Regions from separate parts of the Homo sapiens genome. Here all the other regions are linked to region 2. Evidence: fine-mapped expression QTL. A gene starts in region 2. Each other region holds a variant in brackets. All regions are shown on one strand. Distances are from middle to middle. Region 1 overlaps NEDD4 (NEDD4 E3 ubiquitin protein ligase). Region 2 holds the start of NEDD4 (NEDD4 E3 ubiquitin protein ligase). Region 3 overlaps NEDD4 (NEDD4 E3 ubiquitin protein ligase). Region 4 overlaps NEDD4 (NEDD4 E3 ubiquitin protein ligase). Region 5 overlaps NEDD4 (NEDD4 E3 ubiquitin protein ligase). Region 6 has its middle 35 kb from the start of NEDD4. Region 7 overlaps NEDD4 (NEDD4 E3 ubiquitin protein ligase).

The links. PIP is the estimated chance that this variant, and not a neighbour inherited with it, causes the effect. A credible set is the group of variants that fine-mapping cannot tell apart.
Region 1: its variant is the best candidate, but not a certain one, in a credible set for the expression of NEDD4 in whole blood (INTERVAL, PIP 0.55).
Region 3: its variant is the best candidate, but not a certain one, in a credible set for the expression of NEDD4 in monocytes (TOPMed, PIP 0.59).
Region 4: its variant is the best candidate, but not a certain one, in a credible set for the expression of NEDD4 in thyroid (GTEx, PIP 0.83).
Region 5: its variant is the best candidate, but not a certain one, in a credible set for the expression of NEDD4 in whole blood (INTERVAL, PIP 0.66).
Region 6: its variant is the best candidate, but not a certain one, in a credible set for the expression of NEDD4 in whole blood (INTERVAL, PIP 0.88).
Region 7: its variant is the best candidate, but not a certain one, in a credible set for the expression of NEDD4 in whole blood (INTERVAL, PIP 0.52).

Annotation. Positions count from the first base shown.
Region 1 is chr15:55,943,000-55,947,068 of GRCh38, forward strand. The region is part of intron 4 of NEDD4 (NEDD4 E3 ubiquitin protein ligase); the gene reads right to left. Among named protein-coding and RNA genes, the nearest start is that of NEDD4, 49 kb to the right of the region's middle. The variant C/T (reference allele first, on the strand shown) is at 2,124.
Region 2 is chr15:55,991,864-55,995,932 of GRCh38, forward strand. It overlaps NEDD4 (NEDD4 E3 ubiquitin protein ligase), which reads right to left and starts at 1,749. Exons shown (of 29, transcript NM_006154.4): 1 at 1,648-1,749. The coding sequence starts at 1,692. RefSeq lists an enhancer at 997-1,779 and silencers at 1,282-1,631, 1,872-1,971, 2,758-2,955.
Region 3 is chr15:55,933,373-55,937,441 of GRCh38, forward strand. All of the region lies in intron 4 of NEDD4 (NEDD4 E3 ubiquitin protein ligase), which reads right to left. Among named protein-coding and RNA genes, the nearest start is that of NEDD4, 58 kb to the right of the region's middle. The variant T/C (reference allele first, on the strand shown) is at 2,203.
Region 4 is chr15:55,823,685-55,827,753 of GRCh38, forward strand. NEDD4 (NEDD4 E3 ubiquitin protein ligase) reads right to left here. Exons shown (of 29, transcript NM_006154.4): 29 at 3,238-4,069. Among named protein-coding and RNA genes, the nearest start is that of PRTG, 83 kb to the left of the region's middle. The variant C/A (reference allele first, on the strand shown) is at 1,874.
Region 5 is chr15:55,923,402-55,927,470 of GRCh38, forward strand. NEDD4 (NEDD4 E3 ubiquitin protein ligase) reads right to left here. Exons shown (of 29, transcript NM_006154.4): 5 at 1,245-1,298. Among named protein-coding and RNA genes, the nearest start is that of NEDD4, 68 kb to the right of the region's middle. The variant G/A (reference allele first, on the strand shown) is at 1,941.
Region 6 is chr15:56,026,430-56,030,498 of GRCh38, forward strand. It overlaps the pseudogene RN7SL568P. Among named protein-coding and RNA genes, the nearest start is that of NEDD4, 35 kb to the left of the region's middle. The variant T/C (reference allele first, on the strand shown) is at 1,608.
Region 7 is chr15:55,956,239-55,960,307 of GRCh38, forward strand. The region is part of intron 2 of NEDD4 (NEDD4 E3 ubiquitin protein ligase); the gene reads right to left. Among named protein-coding and RNA genes, the nearest start is that of NEDD4, 35 kb to the right of the region's middle. RefSeq lists a silencer at 1,632-1,809. The variant TGTC/T (reference allele first, on the strand shown) is at 1,895.

The DNA of each region.
Region 1 (4,069 bases), 49 kb before region 2:
GACTGGCAGCATTGTGCCCCTGCTCTAGAAATCTGTGGAACTTTGAACTTGAAAGAGATGATTTACGGTATCTGGCAGAAGAAATTTCTAAGCAGCAAAGTGTTCAAGAAGTGGCCTGGCTGCTTCTAACCATATGCTTATATGCATTCACAGAAATGATCTGAAACTGGAACTTATATTTAAAAGGAAAGCAGAGCATAAAAGTTGGGAATATGTGCAGCCTGATCATGTGGTAGAAAAGAAAGCCCCATTTTGTGGGGAGGAATTCAAGCCAGCTGCTGGAGCTGAATGTTCATAGCCAAGACAATGGGGAAGATGCCTTGAATGCATTTTAGAGATCTTTGTGGCAGCTCCTCCTATCACAGCCCCAGAGGACTAGAAGGGAAGAATGATTTCATAGACCAGGCCCAGGGCCCTGCTGCCCTACACAACCTTGGGACACTGCTCTCTGAGTCCCAGCCACTCCAGCTCCAGCTGTGGGTAAAAGGGCCCAGATATGTCTCAGGCCGCTGCTCTAGAAGGTTCAAACCGTAAGTCTTGGTGGCTTTCACATGGTTTTAAGCCTGCAGGTGGGCACAGGGCAAGAGCTGAGGCTTAGGAGCTCTTCCTAGATTTCAGAGGATGTATGGAAATGTGTCGATATCCACACAGAAGTCTGGATATTGCAGGGGCAGAGCCCTCATGGAGAACTTCTATTAGGGCAGTGTGGATGGGAAATGTGGGACTGGAGTCCCCACACAGGGTTCCCACTGGGACACTGCCTAGTGGAGCTGTGAGAAGTAGGCCACTATCGTCCAGACCCCAGAATGGGAGATTGACTAACCGCTTGCACTGTTTGCCTGCAAAACCCTTAGGCACTCAACACTAGCCTGTGAAAGCAGCTGAAGGGATTGTACCTTGCAGAGACACAGGGGTGGAGACACCCAAGGCCTTTCGGAACCCACCCCTTGCATCAGTGTGGCCTGGATGTGAGACACAGAGTCAAAGGAGATTATTTTGGAGCTTTAAGATGTAATGATTGGAAGATGGCCAAATAGGAACAGCTCCTGTCTGCAGCTCCCGGTATGATTGACGCAGAAGACGGGTGATTTCTACATTTCCACCTGAGGTGCCTGGTTCATCTCATTTGGACTGGCTGGACAGTGGGTGCAGCCCACAGAGGGCAAGCCGAAGCAGGATGGGGCATTGCCTCACCTCGGAAGTGCAAGGGGTCAGGGGATTTCCCTTTCCTAGCCAAAAGAAGCTGTGATAAACTGTACCTGGAAAAACAGGACACTTCTGGCCAAATACTGTGCTTTTCCCATGGTCTTATCAACTGGCAGACCAGGAGATTCTCTCCCATGCCTGGATTGGCGGGTACCATGCCCACAGAGCCTTGCTCACTGCTAGCGCAGCAGTCTGAGATCGACCTGCCAGTCTGCAGACTGGTGGGGTAAGGGGTGTCCACCATTGCTGAGGCTTGAGTAGGTAAACAAAGCAGCCGGGAAGCTGAAACTAGGCAGAGCCCACCTCAGCTCATCAAGGCCTACTGCCTATATAGACTCAACCTCTGTGAGCAGGGCATAGCTGAACAAAATGCAGCAGAAACTTCTACAGACTTAAATGTCCCTATCTGACAGCTCTGAAGAGAGCAGTGGTTCTCCCAGCATGGGATTTGAGCTCTGATAACAAGAGACTGCCACCTCAAGTGGGTCCCTGACCCCCGTGTAGCCTAACTGGGAGACACTTCCCAGTAGGGGCCAACAGACACCTCATACAGGCAGGTGCCCCTCTGGGACAAAGCTTCCAGAGGAAGGATGAGGCAGCAATATTTGCTGTTTTGCAATATTTGCTGTTCTGCAGCCTCCACTGGTGATACCCAAGCAAACAGGGTCTGGAGTGGACCTCCAGCAAAATCCAACAGATGTGCAGCTGAGGGAACTGAGTGTTAGACGGAAAACTAACAAACACAAAGGAATAGCATCAACATCAACAAAAAGGACATACACACCAAAACCCCATCTGTATGTCACGAACGTCAAAGATGAAAGGTAGATAAAACCACCAAGATGGGGAGAAACCAGAGCAGAAAAGCTGAAAATTCTAAAAACCAGAGCGCATCTTCTCCTCCAAAGGATCGCAGC[C/T]CCTCGCCAGCAACAGAACAAAGCTGGAAGGAGAATGACTTTGATGAGTTGACAGAAGTAGGCTTCAGAAGGTCGGTAAAAACAAACTTCTCCAAGCTAAAGAAGCATGTTCTAACCCATTGCAAGGAACCTAAAAACCTTGAAAAAAGGTTAGCCCAATGGCTAACTAGAATAAATAGTGTAGAGAAGACCTTAAATGACCTGATGGAGCTGAAAACCATGGCACAAGAACTTTGTGATACATGCACAAGCTTCAGTAGCTGATTCAATCAAGTGGAAGAAAGGCTATCACTGATTGAAGATGAAATTAATGAAATAAAGTGAGAATACAAGTTTAGAGAAAAAAGAATAAAAAGAAGCAAAGAAAGCCTCCAAGAAATATGGGACTATGTGAAAAGACCAACTCTATGTTTGGTGTAGCTGAAAGTGACAGGGAGAATGGAACCAAGGTGGAAAACACTCTACAGGATAATATCAAGGAGAACTTCCCCAACCTAGCAAGGCATGACAACATTCAAATTCAGGAAATACAGATAACACCACAAAGATATTCCTCGAGAAGAGCAACCCCAAGACACATAATTGTCAGATTCACCAACGTTGAAATGAAGGAAAAAATGTTAAGGGCGGCCACAGAGAAAGGTGAGGTTACCCACTAAGAGAAACCCATTAGACTAACAGCAAATCTCTCAGCAGAAACCTTACAAGCCAGAAGACAGTGGGGGCCAATATTCAACATTCTTAAAGAAAATAATTTTGAATGCAGAATTTCATATCCAGCCAAACTAAGCTTCATAAGAAAAGGAGAAATAAAACCCTTTATAGACAAGCTGAGAGATTTTGTCACCACCAGGCCTGCCTTACAAGAGCTCATGAAGGAAGCACTAAACATGGAAGGGAACAACCAGTACCAGCCACTGCAAAACCATGCCAAATTATAAAGATCATCGATGCTATGAAGAAACTCCATCAATTAACGAGCAAAATAACCAGTGAACATCATAATTACAGGATCAAATTCACACATAACAATATTAACCTTAAATGTAAATGGGCTAAATGCCCCCATTAAAAGACACAGACTGGCGAATTAGATAAAGAGTCAAGACCCATCAGTGTGCTGTATTCAGGAGACCCACCTCATGTGCAGAGACACACATAGGCTCATGAGAATAAAGGGATGGAGGAAGATCTATCAAGCAAATGGAAAACAAAAAAAGCAGGGGTTACAATCCTAGTCTCTGATAAAACAGACTTTCAACCAACAAAGACCAAAAGAGACAAAGAAAGCCATTACATAATGGTAAAGGGATCAATTCAACAAGAAGAGCTAACTATCCTAAATATATATGCACCCAATACAGAAGCACCCAGATTCATAAAGCAAGTCCTTAGAGACCTACAAAGAGACTTAGACTCCCACACAATAATAACGGGAGACTTTAACACCCCACTGTCAACATTAGACAGATCAATGAGACAGAAAGTTAACAAGGATATCCAGGAATTGAACTCAGCTCTGCACCAAGTGGACCAAACAGACATCTACAGAACTCTCCACCCCAAATCAACAGAATATACATCCTTCTCAGCACCACACCACACTTATTCCAAAATTGACCACATAGTTGGAAGTAAAGCACTCCTCAGCAAATGTAAAAGAACAGAAATTATAACAAACTGTCTCTCAGACCACAGTGCAATCAAACTAGAACTCAGGATTAAGAAACTCACTCAAAACTGCTCAACTACATAGAAACTGAACAACCTGCTCCTGAATGACTACTGGGTACATAACGAAATGAAGGCAGAAACAAAGATGTTCTTTGAAACCAATGAGAACAAAGACACAACATACCAGAATCTCTGGGACACATTTAAAGCAGTGTGTAGAGGGAAATTTATAGCACTAAATGCCCACAAGAGAAAGCAGGAAAGATCTAAAA
Region 2 (4,069 bases):
AAGTAGATAATTAAAAACACTGATCATGTACCAAGAGGGAGAAAACAGATGGTGAATGATACCTTTGGCACTATTTTCTTTAAGATCAACTGGCTCTGCTGGAAGGCGGTGAGATGAGAAATCTGCAATTAGCAGGGCCTACCTGTGAATATAGCAGGGAAAGAAAGTCCAAGGTCAGCCTGATTGGGTTGGACACCACCTTGAAGTCAACTGCACTGGGCAGTCTACGTAGCAAGCAGGGAAATCTGACTGATAAGAAAGCGACCACAGGTGAAGTGCTGTATTATCTTCTGATCTCGTCTACAGAATAAAGGTGCCATTAGCTAGAATGATATCTTTAGCTGTAACACATTGACTATTGTTTCTGAGGGACTATGAGCCGCCACCATTTGTCCATCATCACTTTATTTCTCTTCTGGCAGCAATAGCTAGGAAATTAAATTCTAATCGCATCACGTAAGCATTCTCAAAATATCCTGAAATAACTGCATTAACAAATTGCCCACCCTTTATAAACAAAGAACTCTCAAGAGAAGTGTAAAATGTTTGACGACACCAAGGTACTAAGAGAAGGAACTATACAACTTAAATATTACAATACTTAAGCAAGCAGTATAAATTAGGTTGATGGATTTTCAGTTAACTGGGTCTCATCTTGATAAAAGGTACATGTGGCAGCTTAGTCAGCCAACAAGAAAGCAAAAAACTTGATTTTTTTCACTCGGAACCAGTCACTGTTAGACTACATGCAGCCTTTTCATCTCCCACCCATTTGCATTTTTGAGACAATCTCCAAGAACACACAGAAGCCACATATCATTTACGACGGAACAACCTTTCCAAATGGTCGTACAATATTTTTAATAAGCATAGGCATAATCAGCATTAGTTATTTAGCTGAAAAGAAACAGCTTTGCCTTCTTCAAATCCCAGAGCTTAATCTAGTTTTCAAAGGGAACAGATGTGGTAACTTCTTTATAAAGTATTTATACTTTTTTGGCTTCACTTTTTAACATCAACGACGACCGGTGAAATAAAGCATGAACTTCTCACACTAGACACTTGTTGCTAAAGAGGAGGAGGAAAATTTATGTTCCTGCTCTCCCATCCCTGTCTCTAGTTAGGGGATTAAAAAGGATTTCAGATAAAGAAGAAAAAAACAAACCAGCGAATGACAATTCACTTGGAACTCTCCAGACCGAAGTCCGTAAAGTTAAGTCGGCCCGGCCTCCGCCAGAGCAAGCAAATCAACAGCGGGGATGCTGCGACCGTCTCCCAACGCCTGGGAGCTCCGCACACCCGGCGGGGGTGGCAGGAAGGGGCTGGCGCGGTGATGTGGGTCCCCCGCCGACCGCCTAGCCCCCTCCTCAACACTTCCTGAAGGAAACTGACAAGTAAGGCGGCGGCCGCTCCGGGAAGGGGCGGGTGTGGACCCGACAAGCTTGCTCCCTCCAGCGAGCCCCCAGCGCCCGCGCGCCGAGCCGCCCCCACAGTCCCCGCGGCGCCTCGCGCGCTCCCCAGGCTCGCGCCGAGGGAGGAGGGGCTGACAGCAGAGCCTCCGGTCGTGGCCGCCGCCGCTACCTCCCCGGGTCCGGCTGCTGAATAACCCGAAGGGAAGCCCGCCCCGCAGCCCCGCGGTCCCCGCACCTCGTCCTCCAGGAGCCCGAACACCTCCACCGCGCAAGTTGCCATTTCCGAACGCTTCCAGCAAACCGGACGCGCTCGCCCCCGCCCAGGGCAGGCAACTGTGGAGGAGGAGGAGGAGAAGCGGGAGGAGGCGGGGAAGAGTTGGAGGAAGAGGAGGAGGCGCTCCCTCAGCGACAGCAGCGCCTCCCGCGGCGAGCGGGCACTAGCGGCACCCGGCAGCGCGGCGGGAAAAGGCCGGCGGCGCGCGCTCCTGGGGCTGGGCGGGGGCGCGCGTGGCGGGGCTCGGGGAGTGGGGAGGGCGTGCGGCGGGGCTCGGGTGGGATGAGCGCGCGCGGCGGGGACCATGGCGTGGGGAGCGCGCGTGGCGGGGCGCGCCCTCGGTCCCTTCCCGGGAGGTGGGTGGTTGACGGGCCCGCCGGGGAGCCAGGGAGCGCCGGGAAGCGCCGGGAAGCCAAGCTGCAGTGTTCCTCAGCAACAAGTCTCGCTGAGATCCGACCCAGAGTTCGGCCTCTGACTAGACGCCTGGGAATCCGTGAGCTTAATCCCCGCTTAAATCCCAAACGGAAAATCATAGCGCTTTCTTGTCGGTTAAGGGTGTCATTCCCATAAGAAGCTGGACCTGGGGACCGCCAGGGAAAGCCTGAGCGTGGCAGCAAATGGGGAGGCCTGGAGGGATCGCAGCAGTCTTGGACTCGGGATCTGAAATTCTCTCCCTAGGATTTGTAAACAGTGCCAGTTCCTAAGCTATTTGTTGTCCTATGGTCTGTCCATCTTTAAATCCCACCAGTAACAATCCAATCTCCAGGCTGACCCTCTAAACCTGCTTTAGCTGGGCGTTGATCCGCAGCACCACCAGAAGGCAGTGACGAAGAGGGAAAAATAAAGTGAACTAGGACCTCCTGTAGAATAACTCCTCCTGTGGAATAACTCCTCCTGTGGAATAAGGTTATGGAATAATCATGCTTTTTAATATTCCTGTCTGATGGGCTTTATAATTCCATAATTACAGGAAGACCTCCACCAAATAAGGCATCCATAAAAGAGTCTGGGGAGAATTATGAACACCCAGGCCACAATTTATATCATGTTGTTTTTATACATTTGCAGAAATTTGCAGAATTCTGCAATCTCAAAATCTAATTTTTATTTTCCTCAATGATTTCAGAATAACTCTGATTTATTTTTAACAGTTTAAGATGCTACGTGGGAACAAGGCTATAGCCCATATTACTGGTTTGTTACGTAAGATTTTTCTCGTACTTGGCCGGGCGCGGTGGCTCACGCCTGTAATCCCAGCACTTTGGGAAACCTAAGGCGGTGAATCACCTTAGGTCAGGAGTTCGAGCCCAACCTGGCCAACATAGTAAAACCCTGTCTCTACTAAAAACACAAAAATTAGCTGGGCGTGGTGGCGGGCGCCTGGAGTCCCAGCTGCTTGGGTGGCTGAGGCAAGGGAATCGCTTGAGCTTGGGAGGAGGAGGTTACAGTGAGCCAAGATTGCGCCGTTGCACTCCAGCCTGGGCGACAGAACAAGACTCCACCTCAATTGTCGTACTTTATGATTGGTAGGATCCATTTCATTCATATAATATGTATCAAAATTCTGTTAATACACAATTCAGATTTTATCCGTATTAGGGGGAAAGAGATGGCACTTAATCAAACATGACTACAAAATTACAGAATGGTCAGGAATTGTTGGCTTACCTAAATCGAAAAAGCCATGAGAGCATTAATTTGTTTTTTAAGTTGTCACATATCTGTGGGATTTGTGGGTTAAGAATAAAATAATCTGAAAATATTGTGTGCCCTTCTATTTTGCGAATATTTCCCTCATCTCTCATGATACACATTTTTATGTTTAATTTTAAGTTAGTTAAGTCATTTGAATTTAAGTTAATTCAGTGTCATTTCAGGGCACAATTACAAACGTGTAAAAACAGCTTCCGTTACTGCTACTAAAATTTAATGAATATATGAGAAGTATACACAGCCTAAAACTGGTAATTAAAAAAAAAAAAATCAGTAAATCCCCAAGGGATTATAAAGTAAAGCAAATTGGCCATTTGATGTATCCAATAGGTATTAGTGATGATACTTCTAAAGACCACTGATTTGACTCATGATTTCTTATTCTGTCTTTCCGAATATGAAATCATGAAGAATTAAACAGCTACCAATACAAGATGAACTAGAGTAATTATTGTATCCCGGTCAACAGCTAGGAGGGGCACCTGAAATTAAAGGAAGCTCAAATCGGGATGGTGATATCAGCTGGTGGTCCAATAACCAACCACCACTGAGAAAGCTGTTTAGAATGAAGAACTCCTCTACATATCACTCAACTGCGCAGAACTCTCATGAAGGCGTTTTGTCTACCTAGGCTGCCTTCAATTAGGTTCATGTTGATTTGGTTTGAGTG
Region 3 (4,069 bases), 58 kb before region 2:
CTTGTAGGGACATGGATGAAGCTAGAAACCATCATTCTGAGCAAACTATCACAGGGACAGAAAACCAAACACCGCATGTTCTCACTCACAGGTGGGAATTGAATAATGAGAACACTTGGACACGGGAAGGGGAACATCACACACTGGGGCCTGTCGTGGGGTGGGGGGAGGGGGAAGGGGGAGGGATAGCATTAGGAGATGTACCTAATGCAAATGACGAGTTAATGGGTGCAGCACACCAACATGGCACATGTATACATATGTAACAAACCTGCACGTTGTGTACGTGTACCCTAGAACTTAAAGTATAAAAAAAAAAATCTGATGGCTTTATAAGGGGTTTTCCACCTCTTTCTTGACACTTCTACTTGCTGCTGCCATGTGAAGAGGGATGTGTTTGCTTCCCCTTCTATCATGATTGTAAGTTTTCTGAGGCCTTCTCAGCCATGCTAAACTGTGAGTCAATTAAAACTTTTTCCTTTATAAATTACACAGTCTTGGCTGGAGGCAGTGGTTCACACCTGTAATCCCAGCACTTTGGTAGGCCGAGGCAGGCAGGTCACCTGAGGTCAGGAGTTCGAGACCATTCTGGCCAACAGGGTGAAACCTCGTCTCTACTAAAAATACAAAATTAGCTGGGTGTGGTGGCACACGCCTGTAATCCCAGCTACTTGGGAGGCTGAGACAGGAGAACAGCTTGAACCCAGGAGGTGGAGGTTGCAGTGAGCCGAAATTGCGCCACTGCACTCCAGCCTGGGCAACAAGAGTGAAACTCTGTCTCAAAATAATAATAATAATGATAATTTAAAAAAATTACCCAGTCTCAGGCATATCTTATGAGCAGTGTGAGAATGGGCTAATACAGCTTCTTTCACTTAGTATAATGATTTCAAGGTTCATCCAAGTTGTAACTTGTATCAATACTTCATTCCTTTTTATTGATGAATGATATTTCATTATATGTGTATATCTCATTTTGTTATCAGTTGATGGACATTTGTGCTGTTTCTAATTTTTGACTATTATGAATAATGCTGCTACGAACATTGGTGCGCAAGTTTTCTGTGCATATATTTTAATAACACTGTAAAAGTGTAAAAAGTTAAGTGAATTAGACAAGTATTTTCATAAGCATAAAACAATATATGAATAGAAAGTATTCCGGCATTTTAATTTAAATGTTTTATGTCTTTCCACTTTATTTCTTTATGCAAATAGTTTAATCAATAAATATAAAAATAAACTGTAGATATACGGCCACGGAGAAAAAACCCAAACAGTAAAAAAGGATATATAGTAAATTATAAATCTCTGTCTTACCTTTGTCCCACCCCCAGAGCAAATACAGTAAACAGTTTCTTAGGTCCTTCCAGAATTATTTTCTAAAAATACCAGCATATAAGAAATTTTATTATTATTAAAATTTTATTTTATTAAAAATTTTTCTGGTTTTACACAAATAATATATTCCTATATACAATGTTCTGCTTTTTTTTTTTTTTTTTTTTTTTTTTGAAATGGAGTCTCACTCTATTGCCCAGGCTGGAGTGCAGTGGCACAATATCGGCTCACTGCAACCTCTGCCTCCCAGACTCAAGTGATTCTCCTGCCTCAGCCTCCCAAGTAGCTGTAATTAGAGGCACCCACCACCATGCCTGGCTAATTTTGCATTTTTAGTAGAGATGGGGTTTCACCATGTTGGCCAGACTGGTTTTGAACTCCTGGCCTCAGGTGATCCACCCTCCTCGGCCTCCCAAAGTAGTGGGATTACAGGCATGAGCCACCATGTCTGGCCTTGTTCTGCATTTTTCTTGCTTCATTTAGTATAATCTGAAATGAATTATCTATAACAACATATAAACCTGCCTCTTTTTAAACAGTAGATTAGGATTTCGTTGTATGAATGTATCATAATTTACTTACTGCTCCACTGATGGGGTGTCCTGCCTTCTTCCTAGCTAAAAGAATTATAATTTTATTCAAATATTGGGTGACTATGTCTGTCAGGGATAGACAGCAACTCCTCTCTCCCAGGGGCTGAATTTTGATTCCTCTAAGCCTTAGGGTAACACCATTTTCCTCACCAACAATGGGGTAGGAAATATGCACATTACACAATTCTGGCCCAAGAGAAAAAGATCCAAAGTCTTCTGGAAAAAGGTTTTTTACTTTTTTAAAGGGATACTCAGCAAAGGCTGGGCG[T/C]GGTGGCTCATGCCTGTAATCCTAGCACTTTGGGAGGCTGAGGCAGACGGATCATGAGGTCAGGAGATCGAGACCATCCTGGCTAACACAGTGAAACCCTGTCTCTACTAAAACTACAAAAAATTAGCCAAGCGTGGTGGCATGCGCCTGTAGTCCCAGCTACTCGGGAGGCTGCGGCAGGAGACTCATTTGAATCCGGGAGGCAGAGGTTGCAGTGAGTTGAGATCGTGCCACTACACTCCAGCCTGGCGACAGAGTGAGACTCTGTTTCAAAAAAAAAAAAAAAAAAAAGATACTCAGCAAAAAGCTCTCCCTTTTCAGCCTCTGGACATCATCATGTCTTTGGAACTGCTGTAAGTATCTGTGACCACAGAGAGAAAGCCAAGAGAATCCCAGAGAAGCTGGGTCAAGCATGACTTCTTTCACCTGCTGCAATGACCAACCTTCTTCTATGCTTCTTATGATTAAAGCTAATCAGTGTGCTTATTGTGAAGGCAGTTTTCATTGCTACTTCAAGTCTATAACTTGAAGCTAAAAGCATCCTAAATGATACACTTTGTCAGAGGGGTCCCTCCTAAACCTCCTAGACTAAGTGATCCCCCAACCCTGTATTTACTCTCCGGTATCATTGTTTTCCCTTCCATAAAGCTCAGCACACTGGTAATAATTATGAGTTACCTGTTCACACTGGTCCATACTAGACAGTAAGTTTCATTGAGGGTAGGTACTGTGGCCATCTCATTAACAATCATAGCAAAGTGCCTGAGAAATAGGTATAGAAAAAAATCACGCCAAATTTGTGTGCGTATGTAGGTAAGTTTTTTCCCCCTATCCATAAAAATACAAAAGAAAAAAAAACACATAGGAAATCCCAGAAAAGCATATTATCAGTGGTGGTTTATCGAGATGAAATTATGGCTGATTTTCATTTCTCTTTATTAAAAAAACTATCTTGCATAAGTTATATTACTTCTATAACATAATATAAACATACACTTGCATATATATACATTACATAAATCTAATATATTGAGTATGAATGCTAAAAATATACACAGAGCACCTGCAGAATGTAGGAAATGGGGTGAGGCTTTTTCAGATGCCCAAGCACAATTCTTATGCACAGAGTAAATAACATGTGCATTGCACCTAATGTGTTGCACTTTTTTCCCTCTAAGCATGTAAAGTGTAGATTTTAATTATAATTTGCTATTTCTTTTCTTTTTTTTTTTTTTGAGACAGAGTTTCACTCTTGTCACCCAGGCTGGAGCACAATGGTGTGAACTCGGCTCACTGCAACCTCTGCCTCCCAGGTTCAAGTGATTCTCCTGCCTCACCCTCTTGAGTAGTTGGGATTACAGGCATGCGCCATGATGCCCAGCTGATTTTTGTATTTTTAGCAGAGATGAGGTTTCACCATATTGGCCGGGCTGGTCTTGAACTCCTGACCTCAGGCAATCCACCCTCCTCGGCCTCCCAAAGCACTGGGAAAACAGGCATGAGCCACCGTGCCTGGCCATAATTTGCTATTGAGCACTAACTTCAACTTGGAGTTTCCCGTTTGTGTTGTCAATAACAGTTTTTCACAAAAACTTTTTTTGAACTTCATGTTTTCTCAAAGATATAAAACTGCCTTCAACTTCTGACCACAATTTCCATTTGGCCGAATGCCCAAGAACCAAGTTTTTGCTGTAATATGTTATCTCAACAGACATTTTTATGGCGAATACATTCAGTTCAAAACATTCTGGGCTATATAAAAATGATGATATAAATGACAAAGAGGAAAATAGAGGACCACACATAATAATGTCCTTTGCACAGAAGATATTTCACCGTATGTTTTCAGTTTTTTTCTAAGCATAAT
Region 4 (4,069 bases), 170 kb before region 2:
CAACTTTTAAGAAGGCATGATGTTTGCCTTTATAATAATTGATTATTTTTCAGAAGAGAACTTAAGTCAGGACCTAAATAATGAATAGAGTATAACTCATGAGCCTATAGTTATGGCTTTAATCTTTGGTTAATTTCACCAGGAGAAAAAACTTTGTTCCAGGGTCATGTGATTGCACAGGAACTTTCATTTACTTGGGCGTTTGGAGGCCCTCCCTTGCACATCTCTCCAGAGATTTAAAGCAGTTCTAAACACATCTGCAGAGAATGTTCAGCAGCTCTGGGCTGTGAACTGCTTTCTTCCCATCATGGCTGTAGTCTGATTTGGACCCACCTTATAATCCTGACCATGATTTCACTGGAAAGACACCAACCTTCCCAATAAAAGGAGCAATTATGGCTTTTCATTTCTGCTTGTATAAGAAGCAAGATTGTAAGGATGAGTTGAATATAATTTCAGGCCAATGCAACCTTCTGGTATTGAGAAAAATATGAATTGATGGCTCATCTGAGAGTAGTGACTTGTGAATTTATAGCTGCTGAAGTGGAATCTTACCGGCTGTTGTTAGCATTAGTTTATTTAGCTGGCCTTTCATTGACAAAGAGTGGAAAAATGAACGCACATTATAAAATTAGATATACATAAGTGTTTTTCAAGGTGAACCTCCATAATCTTTAACTTTTCTATCCTTAGCCTTTATGTTGTGTGGAAGGCAGGATTTTCTAGTAATGATCTAGGAAATATCTCATCCTCCTAATCTATGCTGTTTATGAACGTGATAAGATCTTGGTCCCATGACTGTGTTCTGCGCCTATGGTACAATTTTCTTTTTTTCTCTGAGATGGTTTTTTCGTGTTTTTTTTTTTTTTTGAGTTGGAGTTTCGCTCTGGTCACCCAGGCTGGAGTGCAGTGGCACGATCTTGGCTCATTGCAACTTCCGCCTCCCGGGTTCAAGTGATTCTCCTGCCTCAGCCTCCCAAGTAGCTGGGATTACAGGCACGCGCCACCACGCCTGGCTAATTTTTGTATTTTTAGTAGAGACAGGGTTTCGCCATGTTGGTCAGGCTGGTCTCAAACTCCTGACCTCAGGTGATCTGCCTGCTTTGGCCTCCCAAAGTATTGGGATTACAGGCGTGAGTCACTGCACCTGGCCAGTACAGTCAATTTCCAAAAAGGAAGACTATTCAGGTGGGCCTGATCTATTCAAATAAATCTTGGAACACAGAGAACTTTCTCCGTCTGGTGGCAGAAAAGGGCAGCTGAATGGGAAATCAGAGATTAGAAGCATGAGAGGCATTGTTGGCTTGAAGAGGGAGAGAGGGCCAATCCATGAGGAATGTGGGTGACATCTGAAAGTTAAGAGTGCCCCCCAGCTGCCATCCAGCAAGAAAACAAGGACTTCAGACCTGCAGCTACTGGGAACTGGATTCTGCCAATAATCGGAAAGATCTTGGATGCAGGCAAGAGCCCAGACACCATGATTTTGGCTTTGTGAGACCCTGAGCAGAGAACCCTAAGCTAAGACCATGTACACTTGTGACCTACAGAAATCTGAGATAATAAATGGGTATTGTTTTTAGCTGCTAAGTTTATGGCAATTTGTTGTGCAGCCCAAGAAAACGGATACATCTTGGTAATTTGTTGGATTCCATAGCTTTTCTTTGTTGTGGTTCATAAATCCACTGAGTTTACAAGCTGTGTGGCCTTAGGTGTATTACTTGTCCTTGAGCCTATAAAACCTGTCTCACTGAGTTTTTATGAAGATTAAATGAGATCCACATAAAGTGTTTACTGCAGAATCCAGCACTCAGCAGGATCTCAATCAAGCTCCCTCTCTGCTTGAATATTTACGTAGTCCCCAATGTCCACCTAA[C/A]TACAGAGCTCCTGCACATTATTGCAGTTCCAGGCACACCATGCTCCTAAATGGATTCTATACACAAACAGTACTTTTAAGCTCAAATTCGTCAAATATTTGCATTGGGAAATGAACATATGAAAAAGATGGATACATAATTGTCTTTGTCCTCAAACTGCCCAGAAGTCTGTAGGACAGAATTATGTAAACAAAGAATTGTAATGCAGTGTCATCCGCACTAGTATATACCAACTGCTGAGGCCACAGCACCGTTCCACTGTGTCCAGAAAGTGGAGTGACTTACCAAGTAGACATGAGAAGTGAAAGCATTCAGGTGGCACCGGAGTCTGCAGTGATTAGGGGCTGGAAGGACTCTGATTTGGAGGGGAACCAAGGGCACCTGAGTGAGGTATGATGGAAGGTGGAATTGAGACCTTAGGCTGAGGATGGACTGCATTCCATGCGAACCTCCATGCTAACGGGTTTGTGCTTCATGCTTTTGGCTCTGGGGAGCTCTCAGGTTTTTTGGCGGTACAGTAACCTGATCAAATCTGTGTGCTAAAAAGGAAACACTGATTGTGATGGAGGGACTGCATAGGATGCATTGCAGGGGAAGAGATGAGCGGAACAGAAAGAGGAGGCTAGTGTGATAGGCTTTAACTTTCAAGGAAAAAGACAAAAATCTACTAAGTCTCTTTCTTCATAATGAGGTACTGACATTCTAATACCTTAGTTTAATATCATTTATAAAATAAATGTCTGCCGTGATGGACAGCAAAGCAAGGACTTCTTGTACAGGTGGGGCATGCTGTGGGCTAGCTGCTGCCCGAGTTGGCTAGAACAGGAAACGTGGAAGCAGAGGGCCATGGCCTAGGTCCCCAAAATTAAAAGCTATGGCCTGGATTATGGCAGAAACAGGGGGCTGGAACAGCACCTTCCCAGGCTGGCTTGAGTGGGTGGGAGTGGATTCCCTTCTAACTGGGAAACTAATTCTCATGCCTGAGAGGAAGGAGGAAAAGACACTTCGTTCTGAATTAACACTCCGAACTCTTTTTCTCATAGAAATGATGTTGTAAATAGTGGTTGGCTACAAGAATGGCTTCTTTGATGAGCAGCAAGGTGCCTGAAATCCAGTCCATTTTTAGCTATTATTTTTATCTTCTGGCTATTTCACTAACAACCAGACTTATGCAATACGACCTTTTTGTAAAGTGGAAATTAATTATCTGTGGTTGAGAGTTTATAATCATGTTAGTTCATCAGGTAATAAGTTTAGGATTGCACTGAAAATTTAACGTGCTGCTGTGAGGAACTAGACCAGAAGACATCACCCAGCATACTGACTTGGAAACACTCCTATTTTATAATGAACCACAGTTTTGTTTTGTTTTTTAAAATCAGAATAGAACTTTATTTGTGGATTCAAGATTTTAAAAAATGATTTTACACTTTAAAGTGTGCAATAAATTTTGATACATCAATCTTGATATATATATTTACTGTGTCAGAAGATTTTAAAAAGTCAAATAGTTTATAATCAAAATGAATTGTGTTTAACTTGATACTTATATGGAATAACTTCAGCATTATAAATAAAAACCCAAAACAAACACCATTTAAATTTGAGTTCTGATGAAATGCATTTGTAATACAATTTTGTTAAAAATTTTTAATAAGAGATTGTAGGCTAAAGTTATATGCTTGTAATTTCTAGAAACATATGATGTCCTTGCTTTATGAAAATGATCCTACTGACTGTCCCGCAGTAGAATGCATTTGAGACACTTTTCTATCTGGGATAAGGGGCTGTGTTGCTTGATAGATGTTTCTTCCAGACCACGAGCCCCTAGTGGGAGATGAAGGGGATGAAGGTCTGCAGCTGGGGACTGGTGGCAGTTGAGTCTGGTCTCATTTAACATCATGTTCTATGAGTCACAGAATCATCCAAATGAGTATCAGCCAGATACAAAGAAAGCTTTGTATTTTCTCATGCTTAGATAGTTCACAAACATAATATTTAAATAATTGTGGCAAAATCCTGTTTTAACAAAAATAATTTTCACATTCCATTCTACATAATGAGGACATTTCCAAAATGCATTGGCCCACATTACTATTACTTTGCTGATATGAAGAAAATGAATTATGATGGTAAGATCCATATACAGATATACACATGTGTATCCATATTATTTATATATTTAATATCAGAAA
Region 5 (4,069 bases), 68 kb before region 2:
CTTTGGGAGTCAGAGGCAGGCGGATCACGAGATCAGGAGATCAGGACCATCCTGGCCAACATGGTGAAACCCCATCTCTACTAAAATTCACAAAAATTAGCCAGGTGTGGTGGTGAGCGCCTGTGGTCCCAGCTACTAGGGAGGCTAAGGCAGGGGAACTGCATGAACCCTGGAGGCGGAGGTTGCAGTGAGTTGAGACTGAGCCACTGTGCTCCCACCTGGCGACAAAGCGAGACTCCATCTCAAAAAAAAAAAAAAATATATATATATATAGCAAGTCAGTGATAGTCTTCTTTGGCAGCAATAATGTACTTTTGCTTAGTATGATGTTTATTAAAGATTTCATTGGCAATATCTTTAGTTGCCAGTATAATTACCATTTCTTGAGGGCAAAAAAAACATGAATGTAGTTTAACACTAAAAACAGACTTTTTTTTAAAAAAAAAGCTAGTTTCTCTGTTAGCTAAAAAATGAACAAAACTGTTTAATTTTTCTGGTGCTTGTAACTGATAAGCTTTGCACACATAACACTGTTTCTATACTTACCTGTTCAAATCTTACAGGTTTAAAATATAGATGTAAGATGCTAAGATGAGGGTTTGAGATTGGATCCTCAGAGACAAAATTAGGAAAAGGATAGGACTTTAAGAGAGTCTTTAGGAATTCAGAAATCAGAACAATCATTTTATAAAAAGAACATCAGGTTTAACTTTGCTTTTTGCTTCTGTAAGAGCTGGCCATCTTTGAGAAGACTTTATTTGCTCATTCCTTATCAGTGTAAAAAGGACAGATTTCCTCTGTAGAAGAGTGGGGATGAGAGAGTGGATAGGATGTCCATTGGATACAGGTAACCCTAAGAAAGGCCACTGTAGTGAGGAGGCGCAACTGAAGGATACCCTGGGAAGATTCCCAGAGCCATGGAGTAGGAACCAGGGGTCATGGGCGAGTGAGAGGGAAGGCAGGACAAAGAGGTTGGTTTTCTGTCCTCTCCTGTCACAAGAGGTCTTGAGTAAGACCTTATAATATGTTGGCAATCAGAAGAGGTGCTTGGGAGGAGAATGGAAAGGGAGCGAGTAGGACCAGGAGGAAGAAAACAAATTCTATCTCCCTCACCATTTTGCCCAGAGTCTCCATAACCACCCCCAAGCCATCACTCAAATCCCAGACTGCTTACCCACTTCCCCTGGCTGCTCCACTGAAATGTACCCTTACTTCATATTTCATATAAGCACAATATAACTTACCAATCGGTTTTCGTCAAACACTTCAAAAAGAAGCCGGTGCTGCTGAGGATGAACCTAAGAAAAACACAATCTTTATTTAAAAACAAGTAAACATCAACCCACAGATACTCAGAAATAAATGCTTAAAGATGCTGCCATTTGGTCGGGCATGGTGGCTCATGCCTGTAATCCCAGCACTTTGGGAGGCCGAGGTGGGTGGATCGCCTGATGTCAGGAGTTCGAGACGAGCCTGGCCAACATGGTGAAACCTCGTCTCTACTAAAAATACAAAAATGAGCCAGGTATGGTGGCATGTGCCTGTAGTCCCAGCTACTTGGGATGCTGAGGCAGGAAAATCGCTTCAACCTGGGAGGTGGTGACTGCAGTGAGCCAAGACTGTGCCATTGCACTCCAGCCTGGGCGACATAGAGAGACTCCATCTCAAGAAAAACAAAACAAAACAAACAAACAAAAAGAAGTTGCCATTTTCTAATTCCGATTATTTGGAATGCATTTTAAAATTACATGAAATAAGAGCAGACTAGTCATGTGTCACTCATTTTCTAGTAGTTTCACAACAACAACAAAGTGAATCTGGTTGTTTATTTTTCAGATTTTTCTAACAGAACGAAAGGAAGTAAAAGAAAATTTCAAAAGATTACTTAAATGTTTGCAAACGCTTATAAATACAGATTAGATTTTGACACCTTATGATCA[G/A]TTTTATTTACTTGCTTTTTATTAATCAGTTTAGAGCCACCCAAAGTGGACATTTTTCAGAAACTAGTGTTGTGAATCCTTTTATTATTGACTTAATAAAATTACATGTTGCTTTTACTATATAAAGTACATAGCAGTCAAAAGTATACACTGCGTTTTCACTTAAGGTTTAAGCTTTGTAGCACATGAATAAAAATTACAAGCAATATTTTGTTTTTCAAAGCCAATGCTTTCATTCTTGTGGGAATGTTTCGATATCAAAATAAAAATCGCCTACTATATATATTATATTGAACACTGTGATATCTTAAAACATTGGTGTACATGTCAAAACTATTGATAGAAAAAAGTCCTATGCTTGTGACAAAGATATCTAGATACCTAACTCAGTGTCTACTTTTCCCTCTGAGAACATAATCCTAGTTTTACCTACAGCCACGTTCCCAGGCTCATCACACTGCACACCTCTTGAGGAAACCACTAATTTTTGAAAACTGAAGTACAACACATATTCAATGAAGTATAAAGTATACTAATGTTGGGATGAGGAAGAAAAAAGTATACTAATCTTAACTATATAGCTTGATAACTTTTTACATATACATACTGTATCATACAGTATGTATATGTAAAAATACATATACATATGTATCATATACATATACAGTATGTAAAATACATATACGTATGTATCATATACATATACAGTATGTAAAATACATATACGTATGTAAAAATACATATACATACTGTACATGTATATGATACATACGTATATGTATCAAACCCAGATAAAGATATTGAATACTCTGTTCTATTCTATATATTGTTTTTTTGTGAATGGTGTCCTATGGAATTGTTTAACATGGAGACCCTGAATATGTCTATCTAGAAATGTATCCCTTGTACCTACGGGCAACCAATGAAGCCAACCTAGTGCCAGTCACTCCTCAGGAGAGCTTTTCAGAGGTGGCTGACTCAGCTGGGAGAGATGTCCCTTTTGCCCCTTGCATTTATCTTTCCTGTCTGAAATGTTGTTAGGATAGCTGGCACTCCTGCAGCCGTATTGTGACCATGGAGTAACTGAGGATAGACATGCCAAACATAAGGCTAGACAACATGGGGAGGGAAAAATAGTGTTAAGACGGCCGGATGTGCTGGTTCACACCTGTCATCCCAGCACTCCTAGGCTGAGGTGGGAGGATCACTTGAGCCCAGGAGTTGGAGACCAGCCTGGGCATCATAGGGAGACCATCTCTACAAAAATAACAAAAATTAGCTGGGCATCATGGCACATGCCTATAGTCCCAGCTACTCAGGAGGCTGAGGCACGAGAATCGTTTGAACCTGGGAGGCGGAGGTTGCAGTGAGCCGAGATCGTGCCACTGCACTCCAGCCTAGATAACAGAGTGCAAACCTGTCCCCTCCCCTCCACCACACCCCCCAAAAAAAGGGTGGGCATGGTGGCTCACGCCTGTAATCCCAGCACTTAAGGAGGTCAAGGAAGGCAGATCACTTGAGTTCAGGAGTCTGAAACCAGCCTGGCCAACAGGGTGAAACCCTGTCTCTACTAAAAATACAAAAGTTAGCTGGGTGTGGCGGCAGGCACCTGTAACCCCAGCTAGTTGGGAGGCTGAGGCAGGAGAATCGCTTGAACCTGGGGGACAGAGGTTGCAGTGAACCAAGATCGTGCCGCCGCACTGTCCAGCCTGGGCAACAGAGTGAGACTACGTCTCAAAAAAAAAAAAAAAAAAAAAAGAAAGAAAGAAAAAGAAAAACAGTGTAAGATGATTTTTTTTCAAAGAAGATGTAGAAGAACTTTTGAGGAGATGTAACTGAGCTAAGACTTGAAAGTTGGGAAGAATTTAAATGAGAAGGTATAGAGAACATGCACAGCAAGGTCACATGAGAAAAGAAGGCATGGGGGCAGAATGAGCGTGCTCTAAGGAAATGAGACAGACAAAGACGACAAGATTCTTTTTTTTTTGAGATAGAGTCTCACTCTGTCACCCAGGCTGGAATGCAGTGGTGCGATCACAGCTCAGTGCAACCAGGCTCAAGCAATCCTCCCACCTCAGCCTCCTGAGGGTCTACAGGCATGCACTACCATGCTCGGCTAATTTTTTAAA
Region 6 (4,069 bases), 35 kb after region 2:
ATTAAATATGGTGTTTACTATACATTTTTTATAACTATGTTTTACAAAGGCAAGCAATTTTCCTTCTATCCCAAGTTTGCCTAAGCTTTTTTTAAAACTTTGCCTAACTTGCCATCTTTAAATTTAGTAATTGGATTTAAATTTTTTTTTTTTGAGATGGAGTCTTGCTCTGTTGCCCAGGCTGGAGTGCAGTGGCGTGATCTCGGCTCACTGCAAGCTCTGCCTCCCAGGTTCATGCCATTCTCCTGCCTCAGCCTCCTGAGTAGCTGGTACTACAGGTGCCCGCCACCACGCCCGGCTAATGTTTTTTTGTATTTTTAGTAGAGATGGGGTTTCACTGGGTTAGCCAGAATGGTCTCGATCTCCTGACCTCGTGAGCCACCCGCCTTGGCCTCCCAAAGTGCTGGGATTATAGGTGTGAGCCACCGCACCTGGCCTAAAAAATATATTTTAAATATCCTTGAGAAATATCCCCCCCATCATTTGCTCATTTCCTATCAACCAAATCACAGACTGTTCAGTTGGCTAATAAGCATAGTACATCATTTCACTTGAGTCAATTAGTATTTTTTTCTGCATCTATAAGAGGATTATATTGTGCTTCTCCTTTAATCTGCTAATTTGGTAAACAACATTATTAGGTTCTCCTTGCATTCCTGATACAAACCCTATTTGATCTAGGGTAACTTATAATCATTTGTAATCACTCTCATAACACACATCTATTCTATTAAATCTCTTAGCAGATCCTATTGGCTCTTCCTTCCTTCAAAATATACTCTGCATCTGACAACTTCTAACCATCTCTGCTACCTGAATTTAAGTCATCATCCTCTGTTGCCTGGATTGAGTCACTGATCCCTTCCCAGTCTCTCTGCTTCCACACTTGCCTCTCTATAGTTGATTCTCAAATTGCAACTGTAATGATCCTTTAAAAATGTAAGTCTGATTATGCCCCTTCTCTACCTAAAACCTTCAGAAAAATTCCCATCTTCCTCCAAGTAAACACTACAGTCCTTTCAAGGGCCCACATCTCCTATAGCTCTTCCTGCTCCTGCTCACTCCAGGCACACTCCCACCTCAGGGCCTTTGCACTTGTTCATTCCTCTGCCTCTGCCTGGGTAGTTCTTTCTCACAGATGTCGACGTATATCCCTATGTTGACATAGTTTTGTCTACATATGTACTAATAGATCTCCACATATATACATGTCTACATGTAGATTTTATGAATATACGTATCTACATATAAACACATCTATATATGTAAACCTACACACATATGTCTACATATACCCCTCAATTCCCAGGTCTTTGCTCAAACATCACTTTCTGCATATTTCTGATAACACTATGTAAAACTACAGTCATGTTCCTCTGTTCCTTTACCTCCTTCCCTGCCTTATTTTTCTCCATAGCAGTGATTGCCATCTGACATACTGTGTATTTTGCTTATTTGTTTGTTGTGTTGATCCCTAGTTTGAATATTATCAGTAACTTTAAGGTGGCAGAGATGTTTGCCTGTTTTCTCCATTATATCCCTGGTATTTGTAACAGTGCCTGGCACAACCCAGTTACTCAGTAAATAATGAATGAATGAAGCGACTA[T/C]TGTTTGATGCTCTGTTGGCCTCAAAATCTGCCTCCATCCCTCCTCATTGCTGGGTTCAGTTTATTAATATTTTATTTAGGATTTGGGGAGCTGTGTTTCTTACTGTGACTGGCTTATTGATTGAACATATTTTGTTTTGTTTTTTTTTCCTCATTTCCCCTCAACTGTTTAGGAAGTTATACATCTTATTTTTGTTTTTGTTTTTGAGACAGAGTCTCACTCTGTTGCACAAACTGGAGTGCAGTGATGTGATGTTAGCCCACTGCAGCCTCGACCTCCCAGGCCCAAGTAATCCTCCCACCTCAGCCTTCTGAGTAGCTGGGACTATAGGCACATGCCACCATGCCCAGCTAATTATAAATCTTATTTTTATTCCTTTGATAGTTACCTTTAATACATTAACATGTATTATATACTTAAAATACAAAAGTAACCATTTTTCTACTCTCATTCAGAATAACACAAGGACCCTGATATCAGGCCCTCCCACTTCACATGTTCTGGTTGCTGGTAACGTTGGTTCTACCTTGTAGATTGCTGATGTGACTCACATCCAAGGAGTGTCCTAGAAATATTATAACGTAGACACATTCCTTGACTCTTCCTCTCCTTTCTGCATTCTTGCATACTTTCTCCACCTGAGTAGAGTTTCATCTGAATATGTACAATCTGGTTTTAATGCCTGTAAACACTTTGCTATCAATACCTACTGTCTATCACTTAGTGTCTTGAAAAAATCTTACTAGCCTAGTCACAATAACCAGTATGACTTACAGTGTTACACCACCCAGGAGTATTTACATTTCACACATATCATAAATGAGGAAGCTTTAATAGAATACTTATTTATCTTGTCAAGGGCTCTCTTGCCACTCCTAAAAATATGTGATATGAAGCCTGGACAACATAGACACCATATTGACAAAATAAAAAATAAAAAACAACTGGACATGGTGGCACTTGCCTGTAGTCATAACTATTTGGGAGGCTGAGGCAAGAGGATTGCTTGAGCCCAAGCATTTGAGGCTGCAGTGAGCTATGATCATGCCACTGTACTCCAGCCAAGGCAACAGAGTAAAATCCTGTAGAAAAAAAAAAAAAAAGACAGGTGTTGCTAACTTCTTTTACACAGTGTTTTTGTTCCATCAATAAGAATCATGAAAAACTGATTTGACCTTCTCAAATTATTTTTCCCCTTTACTATTCTTACCCTTCACTGCTTTTCTCAGTAATATTCTTTCTGACATTTGCCAGCATTCAAAATATTCTCTATTATCTCTGCATTTGTAATACAATATGAAACCAATATATCTTGCCTTCTTAATTAATGTTGATATGAATTGTGTCAAACCTGCAAATATTTAATTCCAAACAGCTGAGCAGCAGCAGATGCTTCATTTTTGTACAATAATGTTTAAATATCTAATGTCCTAATTTTTTAAAACATTGCTTAAATATTTTGAGAAAACTGACACAATCTTAAAACTGCCTAAGCTAATTAAAAATGACACAGTGCTTAAAACTACCTAAGTTAATGATTAAAATTTAGTATTATTTTACTTATACTTTTTCATGTAGCATAAGCTATCTATTGATCATGTAAAGAGCACCCTAATATGTATTTATTTGTTTCTTGCTTTGTTTTTTGAGAATGGGTCTTGCTATGTTGCTCAGGCTGGATTGCAGGGGCTATTTATTCACAGGCGTAATCCCACTACTGATCAGCACAGGAGTTTTGACTTGCTTCATTTCTGACTTTGACTGGTTCACCCCTCCTTAGACAACCTGGTGATTTCCCTATACCCGGGAGGTCACCATATGATACCAAACTTAGTGTAGACCTCCGGTTGGTATAGCCTCCTATAGCCTGGAACTCCTGGGCTCAGGTGATTCACCTCAGCTTCCAAGTAGCCGTGACTATAGGTGCATGCCACTGCACCCAGCAAGCTTCCTAATATTAATCTAGAATAGTTCATTTGATATTTTTCAGATTTTTTCATCCTTGTATTGTTTCCATATTTTCTCCATTATGAATCAGTAGCTCTGTGTGGTTAACTTTTTGTTCTGTATTGAATTATTCCCCTTGAACATGTTTTTGAAAGTGAGATTGTGAGAATAAAAAAGTTCTGAATGGTTTTATGACTTTTGGGGCGACCACATTGATGCCCAGTTCCAGGAGGCACCCTTCATATAGGATGCAGCATAAATGGTGCTCCCTGGAATTCTGCAACAGAGCTGCCTTGTTGCTCCTGTGTCTGCTTTTCTCAGTGCCAGAAAAGTCTCATCATTTACTGTTAACGATGCCTATCTCCCCATACACTTCAAAACAGTTCAGTTTTAGCATTTTGTTTACTTTTGCCAAATTATAAAGTGTATAGAAGTATGCAAGATTTTAATTTGCATTATTTAATTAGTAAGTATTGGAATGTCTTTTGGTTTACTTTTTTATGTTTTGAGCTGT
Region 7 (4,069 bases), 36 kb before region 2:
AAGATACTTTTTCCCAATCTATGGCTTGCATTTTCCGTAACCTTGTTTCTTAAAGAAGAAAAGTTTTAATTGTGTTGAAGTTCCTTTCAACATTTTTCTTTTATGGCTCATCCTTTTTGGTACTGTTCACGTAAACTTTGTGTAACCCAATAGAGCAAAGATTTTTTTCCTATGTGTTCCTATAGAAGTTTTATCATTTTAGCTCATACTAATTTTCTGTATGATGTGTGGTAAGGACCAAGATTCATTTCATTCTATACAGACCAGTTGTTCTAGTACTGTGTACTGAAAGACTACCCTTTCCCTTGAATTACCTCAGCATTTTTTGTTAAACAGGAGCTGATCATATATATGTGTATATATTCTCTCTCTCGCTCTCTCACACACACATGCGCATGTATTTTTACACTCTCCATTCCACTGAACAATATATCTATTCTCATGCCACTGCCACTCTGTCTTATTATAACTGTGTAGCAAGTCTTGAAATGGGGTAATGTAAGTCTTCCAATTTTGTTCTTTTTTGAAATTGTTTTGGCTATTCTATGTGCCTTGACTTTCCATACAAATATTGAAATCAGCTTATCAATTTCTCTGAAAAAACTTGCTGAGATTTTTATTGGGATTGTGCCAAATCTAATCAATTTGGAGAAAAATGCCACCCTAACACTATTGAGTCTTCTAATGAAAACAGCATATGTATCCATTGATTTATGTTGTCTTCGACTTCTCTCAGCACTGTTTTATAGTTTTCAGTGTCCATTTATTACAAATCTTTTGTTGTATTTATTTCTAAATATTTAACTTTTATACAATTGTAAACACGTTTTTAAATTGTATTTTCCAATGGCCCAATGATAGGATACAGAAATATAACTGATTTTGGGTTATACAAACACTGACTTTGCATTTTGTGGTGGTGTTAAATTCATTTATTAGTTCTTCCAGTAGTTTTTTCTGTAGATTCCTTGGGGCTTTCTACGTACAAACCATGTTGTCTGCAAATAAAGACAGTTTTACTTCTTCCTTTTTGACTGTGTGATTTTTTTTTCTTTGCCATACTACATGGCTAAAATATATAGTACAATGTTGGATAGAACATGAAAGCAGACAACTTTGCCTTATTCCTGAGTTAAGTAGAGGGGCTTCAAACTGCCACCATTAAGTAGGTGGTTAGCTACTGGGTTTTTTCATAGATACCCCTGATGAGGTTTAGGACATTTCCATCTATTCCTAGTTTGCAGAGAGTGTCTATTATGAATGGGTGTTGAATTTTGTCAGTTGTGTTTTCTGCTTTTATTAAGATGACTGTCTTCTCAGTGTGGCGATTCCTCAAGGATCTAGAACTAGAAATACCATTTGACCCAGCGATCCCATTACTGGGTATATACCCAAAGGATTATAAATCATGCTGCTATAAAGACACATGCACATGTATGTTTATTACGGCACTATTCACAATAGCAAAGACTTGGAACCAACCCAAATGTCCATCAATGATAGACTGGATTAAGAAAATGTGGCACATATATACCATGGAATACTATGCAGCCATAAAAAAGGATGAGTTCATGTCCTTTGCAGGGACATGGGTGAAGCTGGAAACCATCATTCTAAGCAAACTATCACACGGACAGAAAACCAAACACCGCATGTTCTCACTCATAGGTGGGAACTGAACAATAACACCTGGACACAGGGTGGGGAACATCACACACCAGGGCCTGTCGTGGAGTGGGGGAAGGGGTGAGGGATAGCATTAGGAGATATACCTAATGTAAACGATGAGTTGATGGGTGCAGCACACCAACATGGCATATGTATACATGTGTAACAAACCTGCACATTGTGCACATGTACCCTAGAACTTAACGTATAATAAAAAAAAGATGAC[TGTC/T]TTCTTTTATTCTATTAATACAGTGTATTACATCAGTTAATTTTCAGATGTTAAGCCACCTTTGTATTTTATGTTAGTTTGCTGAGAGGTTTTATCATGACTGGGTGTTACATTTTGTCAAAGGCACATTCCATGCCAAGTGAAATGACCATGTGTTTTTTCTACTTTACTGTATTAATACAGTGAATTGCATTAATTAATTTTTTTAATGTTGAACAAACCTTGCATTTGTAGGAAAAATCCTAAGTGGTGATATATTGCTACATAATGTTTAATTTCATTTTTGCATCTATGTTGACAGATATTGGTTTTAAGTTTTCTTGTGATGTCTGTGTCTGGTTTGGGGATCAAGATAATATTAGCCTAATAAAATGAGTTGGGAAATGCCCTCCATTTTCTGAACGTGTTTGTGTAGAATTTTTATTTTTTTTTCCCTAAATGTCTGATAGCTGCATCCAGTGATATCATGTGGGCCTGGAGTTTTCTTTGTGGGAAGGACAAATTCAATTTAATTAACAACAAATTCAATTTCTTTTAACAACAAATTCAATTTCTTTCAATAATAAACATCTATTAAAGTTTTGTATTTGTTCTGTGGCTAGTTCTGAAATCTGTGTCTTTCAAGAATATTATCTACTTCACTAAATTGTGTGTACTTCTTTACTGATACAAAATTGTACAAAATGTTTTCTTTTTATCTTTTTCATTTCCACAGGGTCTATAGCAATGCCCCAGTTTTCATTCTCATTACCAGTAATTAGTGCCTTCTCTCTAACTCTTGATCATTCTAGCTAGAGGTTTAAAACTTTAATTGATGTCTTCAAATAACAAGCTTTTGATTACAATAATTTTTTTTCTACCATTGTCCACTTTCTCTTTCACTGATTTTGGCCCTTGTCTTTATTATTTCTTCCCTCTACTTATTTTAGAATTCATTCGCTCTTCTTTTTCTAATTTATTAAGGTCAGAACTCAAAACATTCATTTATATCTTGCTCCTTTTCTAAGTTAAGCATTTTAAAGACATAAACTTCCCTCTGAATATAACTTTAGCTGCATTCCACAATTGTGATATTGCTGTATTTTCATTTTCATTCAGTTCAAAATGTTTTCTTCTTTGACATATAGATTATTTAGAAGTATACTAATTAAATTCCAAATATCTGCAGTTTTTCTAGATCTTAATATTATTGGTTTCCAATTGAATTCCACTGTTCTCAAAGAACATCCTCTATATGATTTCAATCTTTTGAAAACCTCTGAAACTTGTCCTATGGACCCACACATGGTCTATCTTGATTAACGTACCATGTGCATTTCAAAAGAATGTGGTTTATTGTTTCAAGGCCCGGAATATTGTGGCATCCAGACACTAGGGCAGCTCCTATTATCCCCACCTCCTAATATTCATGTTCTTTGTGTTCCTCTCCTCTTAAGCATGGGACAGATCTATATATTCTAACCAACAGATTATGGCAAATGTGACAAAAAGTATGTGATTACATTACATAAGATTGTAATCCATCTTGCTAGGAGACTCTTGCTAGCTTTGAAGAAGCAAACTGGCAGCTTGTGAGCTGCTGAATGGCAAGAAGCTGAGACGGCCTCCAGCTGACAGCTAGTAAGAAATGGAAACGCTCAGACTGGCAGCATGCAAGGAACTGAATGCCACCAGCAACCACATTAGCTTGGAAGTGAATCCTTCCCTAAGCAAGCCTCAGCTAAGACCACAGCCCTACCAATACCTTAATGACAGCTGAAGTGAATTCCTATAATTTTATGTTGCCTCAGCATCCATAATGAATGTTAAGTTGGACATTTTTATACCAGAAGCAGGTCTTAGTCACCCTTAGCACAGTTTCCAGTTCTCTACCTCCTCTCAGCTCCTCAATGTGGTCAATCCAGATAACTACCTTACACAACTGCCTCCTGGTAACCATCTCCCTAAGAAACAACCAGATTCAACCTACTTGACTTGCTCCACTGACCCCATACCCCCAAAGGACTGCAGAAATAAGCCACAGTAACCACCTCTCTGTGATGGGTAATATTGAGTGTCAACTTCATTAGACTGAAGGATGCAAAGTATTGTTCCTAGGTGTGTCTGTGAGGGTGTTGCCAAAGGAGATTAACATTTGAATCAGTGGACTGGGAGAGGCAGACACACCCTCAA